3 linked regions of the Homo sapiens genome follow. The gene in region 1 interacts genetically with each later gene. Each region holds a gene or a part of one and is shown on either strand. Other genes may lie near its edges.

Region 1 (3,655 bases):
CCAGCATTTCTGTGGTATTCCTGCCAAAAATGTATAGCCTGAATCTAATCATGAGGAAACATTCTATAAAATAACTGGCCTGTGTTCTTCAAAATGCCAAGGTCATGAAAGACAAGGAGAGACTGAGGAACTGTTTCAGAATAAAGGAGACTAACAAGAGATGACAACTAAATGCTGGATACTGAACCAGACTGACTTTGTTCTGTGCCATAAAGGACATAGTTACAGTAACTGGTCAGTTTCAGTGGGTCTCCGGATTAGATGGCAGTACTGCATCGCTGTGAATGTTGCTTTGGATGCTGCACTGTCACTATGTTGGAAAGTGTTTTTGTCAGGAAATACTCATTCAAGAATTTAGGGTTATGGGCATCACATCTGGCGTAAATGGAATAAATTCCCATGTGGCACACAAGTTGCATGTGAGCACATGCGCACGTACCTATGTGGACAAATATAGCTATAAATAAACAGAGAATAGAACACGTGATACAGCAAACAGCGACAGGGGAACCTGGGTCAAGGCCAGCCAAGAGTTCTTTGTGTTATTCTAACAAATTTTCTCTAAGTTTGAAATAGTTAAAAAAAAATTTTTAATATTAAGGAAAACAAATCGTTTTTTTCTGATAATAGAACATAAAACTGCTAATTATCTGCTTAAATACAATGAAAAACTGGTTGTAGCTGTGCGCCACACCTTATTTCAGTATCTCTTTACTCTTCAAATTTGTTAATCTTTTTTTTCTTCTTCCCTTTCCTTCTTTCTTCTTGATGCCTCAGGTTTAGTAGTAGCACTCAAAGGCAATGTTTGCTATTAACAGAACTCTAGGTTTACTAGTCCTTATGTCAAAAATCAGATAATTTTAAAAGCCAGATGAAAGAAAACATTCTATAAGTTCTATTATCCTCTGTAACACACAACACCATGAAATCGGAATCATATTAAGCTCTGTGATAAAACTGTTGTTGAAGTATCTCTGATTACTTTAAATGTCAGTTTAATTCCAAAATTATGTTTTACTACTTTCTGTTCTACTGGAACATAGTGGCAAATAGACAACTAAAAGACTCAAAGTAAGACTTATTTTATCTTTAAATAATGGGTAACATTTTACTAAAAATGAATACGAAAAAGGAATTACACTACGGCAAAACTGGAAATTATAAAAAGCAAAGGATAACTACTACTAAAATTTTAACCATATATATTATGGTTAACATCATACATAACATACATATGAAAGACCACTTCTATGAGGTGTTAATGTAGCATCTGGAAAACCTGGTGTTTCTAACAATCCAAATGAGTTATCTGCCGCCTGAATGTTTCTGCAACAGTTTAATGGAAGAATAACAACCAAGCTGAAGCTTCACCGTTTTAATGGTTAGCATGTCAGAAATGTGATCTGGTTCATAAAAGAAAAAAAATTCTAGACATTTAAATAATTTAGATTACCTAGAATTTGTGTACTTTTATATTTACTAGTGAAATACAATGCTTTAATTTTTTATCTACCAGTACTGCTGTGCTATATCTAAAATTACTAAATTTATTTCAAGGAATCCCTAGAGACGAAGTTAGGACCTGGAATGAAATAGTTGTTTCTTTTCTTTAATAAAATTCATATTTGAGAGGTTTGACTTAATTACCTGTCAGATCCATTCCAACAACATTCAAATTTGTCAAATATGCAGTCATTTTCATACAGTGAACAGAGTTTACTTCTGAGGTATTCATGCACCTGGGGGAAAAATACAAATATACTGCACTGAAATTAGGAAAATGATTTAACAAGTCCATATCTTTAAAAAGAAAAAAAGGGCATATACAGACACATACACACACCTTTTAAACCTATTAATCTCAATCTTCTCAGTAACAATAAAGGCATTTTGTCCTTTTACAAAACACACAAGCCCTTCAGGGAGGTACATTTTCCTACTGGTATGACAAAGGAAAACTCCATTCTGGGCATGGCACACATAGCCTTTATAAGCCTGAATAAAACATTCAGGCCAAAAACACTTGAAAATGGCACAGTTAAGAGACTAATAAAAGAACATTATAGCAATATCTGAATATCACTATTCTTGGCTTTCAGTCCATTAACTACTGATAACAACACTGAAACTGTGCCTATTTCTTTCTTAAATACCATTTTCTGGGCATAAATTTAACTGAAGCCTATATTTTCCATTATAAATGCACATGTATGCATAGCGTAACCATGCCTTGGTTTGGTGATAAATTATATGGTTATTCTGGGCATATATTATTAAAAATTTGATAGTATCATATTATACAATGTCAAAAGCTAACAAAGCTGTGCCTGTTTTTTGAATTATATAATTCTGTATTTACTAATATGTCAAAAAAGGATAAACTAGAAATCTCATATTTAAAAAGTCTGAGAAATATGACATATTTCAACATTAATATTAATTACAAACAAAAGTTCCAAAGTATTTGTTGTAACTCAAAGGAAAAAAGGAAGTGTCTATATTTCACCATCTCTTTTTAAGGAGCTACTTAAGGAGAAATGACAGAAATGAGAAGGTACCTTCTAAATGCTTAGAATTCTCTATTCTATATGAAACAATCTAAACTTATTTTCAGTGTCTATTTTAACTTTAAATATAGTGGAATGATTCAGGCCATGTCTCTGTGACATTAAGTGAAAATCTGTAATACAGAGGAATAGCAACTCATGTGGGGTTAGGATCAAAAGTGAGCATGTAACACAAAAAAATCAGTAAGAAAAAAATACCCTTCAATCACACAAAACTTGGCAAGATGCTGGTACAAATTCAATAAAAATAGTTTTATCTATATATGATACATTTGCCTATAATGTGACTACTTTTAATCACTACTCCAACTGTTTATAAGTAGAAAAGTAGCAAATCAGGTAAAATTAGGTAGATTATCATAATTTAGCAACATTTTAGAATGCACATTATAGAGTTTCTCACTATACATCAGTATGAAGCTAAGCTTCAAATCAATTCTTCTCAATGGGAATGAAATGATGGTGAGGGTAACTAGGAGATATATCAATCTTGGCAGTTACACAAATAGAAGTCTTTTTTCAGTATACACGAGGGATGGGTTCCAAGAACCCCAGGTATACCCAAATCTGCAGTTAGCCCTGCGGAACCCACACGTGAAGTTTTGGCCCTCCATATATTTGAGGGGTTTGCATCCCTCAAATATTGTATTTTCAAATGTGCATTGGTTGAACAAAACAAAACAAAAAATCTGTGTATGAGTGAACCCATGCAGTTCAAATCCATGTTGCTCAATAGTGAACTATACTTTGAAAAGCAAAGCAGTATTTTGTCTTTTGTTTCAGTGCAGTATTTATTTTGAAATTTCACGTATCAAAAACAATCTTCGTTTATGTTTGTCAGAGGATTTAAAGTTTGAGAAACATACTTCCCAGTCTATTGAGAATATATAACATAAAGAAAGTATATGTATAAATTAGAGTTAAGTGATTTCAACACTGCAGTCTAGGGCCTAGCACAGGTTTGTGCTGTCCCTCACCCTGTTCCAGGCTGTGTACTTCATTCTCTTCTGTTTGATGTAGTGGACACGGATAAACAGTAGTGGCTGGCTGATAAGAGAATCAAGAACTGACATCCAACAACGGATAGG
Region 2 (3,655 bases), on another chromosome or scaffold:
TTTTAGATTTCTCAATTTTAAAAAAGTTGAAAAAAGAATGTTCTGATGCCCCTTGCACATATATGCCAGGTAAGGCTTTTCCATGAAGAAAATTCATGGAGGACTTCAGTTACATCTCAAGACAAGACAGTGATTTCAGGAAGCTGTCTTCTCCCATTCTGTATCCCAGATAATTAACTTACCCAGTGGTGACAGCATATTTGATGTGGTTGCTTGTGGTATAGATAAATACCCCACTCTCATCCCAGGCCCCACTCTTGACACGAATGTTCTCATGAATGTTACATAAAGCATCCAGTTTGCGGTTACAGATCACAATGGCTGTAAGAGGCAAAGGGCATGAGTGTTCTGTTGGATAGGGTAAGTGCCGTAGACTGGCAGGGATCGGGGTGGAAGGGAATGGTCTCTAAATCAGGGTGGATATAATGAAGACTCACCGTGTTTGGCTAGTAGTGCTACATGTGACATGTCTGCTGACCAGATAACGTATTTCACTTTAGAAATCTTCACAGATGCCAGAGTCCTGAGATAGATAGAGATGTGCAAACATGAATGGATCTATTTCCCTTGTCTCAGGCTTTGATCTACATCAATTGCACCCTCTAATTAATGTAAACCCCAATTTCTTAATGTAATTCTAATTACATAAAATACTTAATGTAATTCCTACATAGTAGCTCAGTGACTTAAACATTTTGGCTCACATTGTGCACTTACCCCTTCCTCAACCCCCTCTCCCTCATTTCCTTGTATTATTAGGGAATCTGTGTATGTCTGTTTTCACCACTGGACTGCAAGCTCCCTTAAATGTAGGAACTATGTTATTAATCTCTGTCTCTCTCTCATTCTAAGCTCGGAGAACACGCTTTGTTCAGGTAAGTACTGTAAAAACAGATAAATAACCAAGAATCTCACTGTAATGCTAGTGTGGACGTGAAGAATGGAGAGTGATCACAGAAGGGAAAAGTTACTATAAAGAGTCTTGGAGCACAAGAAGTGGCCAAGCCACAAGACAAACTCACTTGGGGAAAAAAGGTTCCCACTAAAGATGTCCACTCTCCCCAACTACAGGGCTGTCTGCTTAGGGGCACCTGATATGTTACCGCTTCTGCTGTACGTCAAAGAGTGTGATAGAGTCCGCATCTCGAAGCAGGAGATTGCCTGTGCCAGCATAGAAGATCTCATCACAGTTGGGCACCTGTACCTTTTTGGTGATCTCATTCTTCAGATTCTTGATCAGAAGCTGCAATAAGTATTAAAGATGGGGTTAAGAGAAGAAATGTGTATAGATGATGATGACAACTGATGATGTTCCTCAGCAATTGTTCCTTAGCTTCAATTAACTAAGTATTTTTTGTCCTGTCCATGTCAATTACCACTGCAGACAGACCATGCCAACCAAGATCTTCTCTAAGGGCCTTAATACATTATTTTTTCTCCTCCAACTAAAACATCCTGAGAAGTCCCAACTAAAGTCTGAATTTCTCAATGAATGAGAGAGAGAAAACACTGTTTCTGGGGCTTAAATTTTGTTAAATATTTTCTTCAGAGTGCTTTATCTTGTGCTGGACCTATTACATTTCAAGTAACAATGGAGGCAGCAGAAGGAGGGAAATTTCCTCATCCAGCCCACTCACTTCAGATTTGATGCGTTTTGGGCTCCTGTAGTCAAGAGTGACTTTAGCTTGGTTCTTAAACCCAGAGCCACGGCGATCATCAACCCAATCAAATCAGTTTTAATGCCATTCCCCCAAGAGGGCTTAGTGTAGGGCTAGAGACAGAGGTACAGCCAATACATGAGAATCACGGCTGCCCGGGGGAGAACAGAAAAAACAATGGTCTTTATTTTGCAATACACAGGCCACTGCCACCACACTCCCCAAATTAGTTTCTGCTTTTAGTCTTAACTCACCGAATGCATCCGATCTAGGACAGCAAACCGATTTCGAGCGACCCAAACGGCTGTCAGGCCTGAGGATCGTTTCCCTTCAGGCGCTGAGAAGAACAAAACCAAAGGGTGGGAGCATGTGGTGAGTCACTGGCAGGTGACATAGTCGGGTGCCATGGAGCTGCCAGTCTTGCTGGATGCCATCTTGGCTTTGCCAGTTGAGCTGCTTCCTAACTAATTCAGCCATAACCTGGGGCTATTATTGAGTGACTTTTCCCCACCAGTCCCCTCCAAACACCAACCACCACCCCTGCCAAGGCTCTTTTCTCTAGGCCAAGTGGTTGCATTTCAGCCAACATCATGTACTGGCAGAAGGGCCGCCCATCTTGGGAGACAGCACACTCCATCAAGCTAACGAGCAGGGCCTCCCTGGCCAAGCTGCGGCAAAGCAAGCCTGTGTCATAGGACCCCCTCCACAGGATGCAGCTGCTCTCTGCTGCTTTTAACATGCAAATGCAGACTTCCTAGTAGGGCAGGGTGAGGCAGAGCACTCCCAACTAAATCTTGACAGGAGAGCTTGGTGCTGGGCGGTATTTAGAACCAAGTTGTTGCTCTGTAAATGTCAACTGACCATTCTTATCACCCTGAAGAGAGTTACAAAATGTTCCTCAGTTCAGTGGCTTATTAGAATTTTGAAATGGACACTCCATTCTCTGGGAAACTTGTAGAAGGATAAACAGAAGGGTGCATCAAAATACTCTTTTACCTATTAGACCAGCAGAAAACTGGAGAGAACATGCTGGCCAGTCTTGCCCCTGGCATCTGGAGTGGCAGGCAATTTATGAAACTAATTATTATCAAAACCAACACTCCCGTTTTCCAGGGGCCAGGAATCTGCATTATTCAAGCCCATCTCTGTTGCCCACCACTGGGCTGCTCCTTTATTATTATCTCCCTCAAAAAATGAAGTACAGAAAATAAAAGTGGTAATAAAACAAAACAAAATATTTTAAATTCTATTAATTGTAAACACAGATGGGGAAAAAAAAAAGCAAAGAGCTAGTTGGGAGGTACCAAACCATAAGATTTAGTCAGAAATGGCTTAACTGACTAATTTATAAGGGAGACTTTGACTTATGGATACCAAATACAAATATCTTTTCTTTCTCTCACTATGAACACATTTAAAAGAGAGGAGATCGATTAGCAACAATAATAACCCAGGGGCACCCACAAAAGAAACAGAGCTAGCAAATTATTTCTTAGGAATCTGTTGATGGGGTCTAAAATATCATTAAAATATGCCAGTAAGAGTGGGGATCTGCAGAATAAATCTCTGACCTGGTACTAGCCATAAACCCGCTGGAAGAAGTGCACCCAAAAGACCATAGGCAATAGTCAAATCCATTCTGAGAATGTTTTGTCAGCAAGTTCTAATCACAAGGACATCAACAAGGGATAGTGGTAATGGAAGAGGTAGGCAGGAGTCTCAGCTGGATCCTGGGATCCCAGGTGGGGTGTGGGGCTGTTAGCAGCCTCATCTTTTTGACATGCAAAAGGAAGCAAATCGGATCTGGATGTGGATAGGACAGTATAAATCCCTAGTCCCAGGATGAGGCATTATAAGATTGGAACCACATTTTTAAATAAATGAAACTACCAGGGTGAAAGTCATATCAACTGACAATAAACTAGGATAACATGCTGTGCTGAAAGAGAGAATGGAGAGTTTCTAATAACCAAATTATAAAATATATATATCTAGCT
Region 3 (3,655 bases), on another chromosome or scaffold:
AAAAAAAAAGAAAATGAAATATTTAGTTACTACTAAAAAAAAATTTTGAAACAGCATAAAAAGATGTGCTTAATAAAAGGGATATGACTAAATAAAATGAGAATATCAGCTTGATAAATTAAAACAAAACCATTTAAAATAATAAAAGTGGGGCTAGGCACAGGGACTCATGCCTGTAATTCTAGCATTTTGAGAGGCCAAGGCAGAGGGATCACTTGAGCCCAGGAGTTTGAGACCAGCCTGGGTAATATAGTGAGACCTCATCTCTACAAAAAATAAAAAAATTGGCCAGGTGTGGCGGCATGCGCTTACAGTCCCAGCTGCTTGGGGGCTGAGGTGGGAAGACTGCTTGAGCCCAGGAGGTTGAGGCTGCAGTCAGTTGTAATCATACCACTGCACTCCAGCCTGGGTGACAGAGTGAGACCCTGTCTCAAAATAAGTAAATAAATAAGGAAAAAATAAAAGTAGCAATACCAAAATAGAACAAAGCTGTATGAACACTCTAAGTACAACACAATTTTTAAAAATATGCAAACATATAAAGACTAGAAGAAAAAACAGAAAACAGTCATATCATTGTGAGAATGTAGACTGAATTTTAAAACACCCTCTAGGATGTTACAACGTTGACTTAACACATTTTAAACAGACTTATAGAAGAGCTTGTGAAAAGTTCTGAAATACAAATGCTTTTGTGTTTGGAGCAGACATGATCATGAACTCACTTGTTTTAACTGACTCCGCCTTTTGGACAAAAGCATAATATTTTCATTAAGTAAATCCCATTCTTTAGCCTCATAGCACATCTTCACTACTGCAACTAAGATACGGGATGTCGATACCATATCGGAAGCCTGTAAGGGTAAAAATATATTGAAAGTTAATGGAAGAATGTTCAATGAAATTAATGGTAACTGAGCTTTCCCCTGTAAACTACTCACAGTACGAGTCTGCTTTTCCAGAGAGAGAAGGGTTTCAATGACTTCTTGAAGTCTTCCTTCCTAAAACAAAAGATGAAAATGAACAATAAAAAAACACACAAAATGCAAATAACTAGTCTAAAATGAAATGGTTTTGACACAGAAAAGGAAAAATCAACAGCCTCTTCTAGAGGAAAAGGACTACCCATAACTAGTTTTGTTTCTCTCCTTTTCATGATAGTGCTTCCTTCTCTAGTGGGTTCCATCAGTCAGTGGTTCCCTACTTGAAGCCCATAAGCTATTTTTAATATTTTTAAATGCCTAAGAGAAACTGAACATATAACAATCATGTAACACCTAAGAAAACATCAAGTCTTTGTTTTGGATTCTAATTTATCAACTCAGTGTGGTAACACCTGTTTATCTTGTTCTTTTTTTTTTTGAGACAGAGTCTCACTCTTTCACCCAGGCTGAAGTGCAGTGGCACCATCTCGGCTCACTGCAACCTCCACCTCCCGGGTTCTAGCGATTCTCATGCCTCAGCCTCCGGAGCAGGTGGGACTACAGGAGTGCCCCACCACACCCGGCTAATTTTTGTTGTTTTTTGTAGAGATGGGCTTTCACCATGTTGGCCAGGCTGGTCTTGAACTCCTGACCTCAAGCGATCATCCCACCTCGGCCTCCCAAAGTGCTGGGATTACAGGCCTGAGCCACTGCATCTGGTGGATCCTGTTCTGATCAGAGACTCTAAGTGGTAGTCACATGTGTCTTTAAAGAATAAAAACAGAGGCCAGGTGCAGTGGCTCATGCCTGTAATGACAGCATTTTAGGAGACCGAAGGGGGCAGATATCTTGAACTCAGGAGTTCGAGACCAGGCTGGGCTACATGGCGAAACCTGTCTCTACAAAAAAATACAAAAATTAGCTGGGCATTGTGGTGCATACCTGTAGTCCCAGCTACTCTGGAGGCTGAAGTGGGAGGCTGGCTTGAGCCATGGAGGTGAAGGCTGCAGTAAGCCAAGATCGCACCACTGCACTCTAGCATGGGCGACAGAGTGAGAACCTGTCTCAAAAAAAAAAAAAAAAAAAGAAAAGAAAAAAAAGAAAAAAAAAGTAGGAAAATAAATGATTCCTTTATGAAGTTACCGTCACCCTAACAGATATTTTAAAATACAGAGTTCCAAGGAGAAATAAAAAGAATGCTTGGAGCTAAAAGACAGGAAACTATGGTTTAATTTTTCAATGACTTTAAGAATAAATTAGTAATCATGCTTACCGGAAATGAAGGCATCTGAGAACACCCACACATGCTATCCTTAAAGTCATGCTCTTGAGCAGATACTGATTCAACTGAAATACAGTTTCTGACAACTTACACTAACCTCTCCACATCTCTAACTCAGATGTAAAAATAAAACATTCTCCCTAGGCTATATATTTAGAGATTGGAACAATAAAACTCAAATAATATAAACATAAATGATAATACACCAGGAGTAAAACAAGTTATCCTATTAGGAACCACACATTTTGATAAAACCAAAACCAACATACAGCACAAAAACTGCACTCATTGGCCAGGCATGGTGTCTCACGCACTGTAATCCCAGCACTTTGGGAGGCTGAGGTGGGAGGACACTTGAGCCCAGGAATTCGAGACCAGCATGGAAAATAGGGGCAGATCCTGTCTCTACAAAAAATTTACAAATTAGCTGGGCAAGGTAGCCTGTGCCTGTGGTCCTAGCTACCCAGGAGGCTGAGGCGGAAGAATCACTTGAGTGCAAGAGTTTGAGGCTGCAGTGAGCTAGGAATGTACCACTGCACTCCAGCCTGGGTGACAGAGTGAGACCTGGTCTCTAGATAAAAAATTTTTAAAATGCATTTATTTAACATGCTAATATTAATAACTATCATGTAAATATCTCTGACAATAAATTGAAATGAGAAGAGTATTGTTTAAAAATTGTTTTTCTAACCAAAAATGAATTTTTTTTATCTTAATAACATTCATGGATGATACGTGAGTACTATCCTTTTCTACTGATGAAAGAAACTTATTAAATAGCTTCTGAATTATGGGCATAAATAATGTTTTGACTTTTTAAAATACTGCTGCCATATTTTTCCAAGATAGCTTTTAAACATGCATGAATCTTCCATGCGGCACAGCATATATACTGCATGGCCCGTCTGAACTTATTTTAATTAAATCTGAAATATGTGATTCTTAACATATTTTAACAACGTTTCCTGTTTGGAGAGCCCTAGTTCTCCTTTCTCTGAAAGTTCTATAGATTTATATATATAATAAATACTGGCTAAATGTTCATCAGAGGAAAAAAACAATGAACAAATCTATAAATTCTCCAAAGTTGAAGGCTAATAAATCCTAAAAGATGAAAGAATCTTAGAACTAGAAAGACGGCTAGGCATTATTTAATTCAATCATTTCATTTTAGAGATTAAAAAGACTGAGGACTAAACAGCTTAAAATGACTTGCTTAGCCACAAAAGGAAATGAGCAGCACTAGATCCGGGGCTCCTGCCTCAAGCTCCAAAGCTCTCTCCACTAGAGTGCAGCGCTTCCCCTACTGTACTAGTTTAAATCTCACCTTTCGCTTTGATCAAAGTCATCTCTATGGTTACTATCTGGCAACAAAATGAAGGGCAAAAATAGTTAAAATGCAAAATACTATTTAATGACAGTCACCCATCACATTTGCAATTACTATTAG

The links.
Region 2: changes in PPP2R2A (region 1) and COPA together harm fitness less than expected from each alone (positive genetic interaction), as found in Homo sapiens cells (one large-scale study listed by BioGRID).
Region 3: changes in PPP2R2A (region 1) and PSMD12 together harm fitness less than expected from each alone (positive genetic interaction), as found in Homo sapiens cells (one large-scale study listed by BioGRID).

The regions. Positions count from the first base shown.
Region 1 is NC_000008.11:26,364,399-26,368,053, reverse strand, and holds part of PPP2R2A (serine/threonine-protein phosphatase 2A 55 kDa regulatory subunit B alpha isoform), read right to left. Parts: intron 1,740-3,655; coding exon 1,648-1,739; intron 1-1,647. UniProt on the Homo sapiens protein: Substrate-recognition subunit of protein phosphatase 2A (PP2A) that plays a key role in cell cycle by controlling mitosis entry and exit. Involved in chromosome clustering during late mitosis by mediating dephosphorylation of MKI67.
Region 2 is NC_000001.11:160,305,251-160,308,905, forward strand, and holds part of COPA (coatomer subunit alpha), read right to left. Parts: intron 1,996-3,655; coding exon 1,913-1,995; intron 1,244-1,912; coding exon 1,104-1,243; intron 524-1,103; coding exon 438-523; intron 349-437; coding exon of another isoform or gene 322-348; coding exon 183-321; intron 1-182. UniProt on the Homo sapiens protein: The coatomer is a cytosolic protein complex that binds to dilysine motifs and reversibly associates with Golgi non-clathrin-coated vesicles, which further mediate biosynthetic protein transport from the ER, via the Golgi up to the trans Golgi network.
Region 3 is NC_000017.11:67,356,578-67,360,232, forward strand, and holds part of PSMD12 (26S proteasome non-ATPase regulatory subunit 12), read right to left. Parts: intron 1,002-3,655; coding exon 942-1,001; intron 855-941; coding exon 726-854; intron 1-725. UniProt on the Homo sapiens protein: Component of the 26S proteasome, a multiprotein complex involved in the ATP-dependent degradation of ubiquitinated proteins.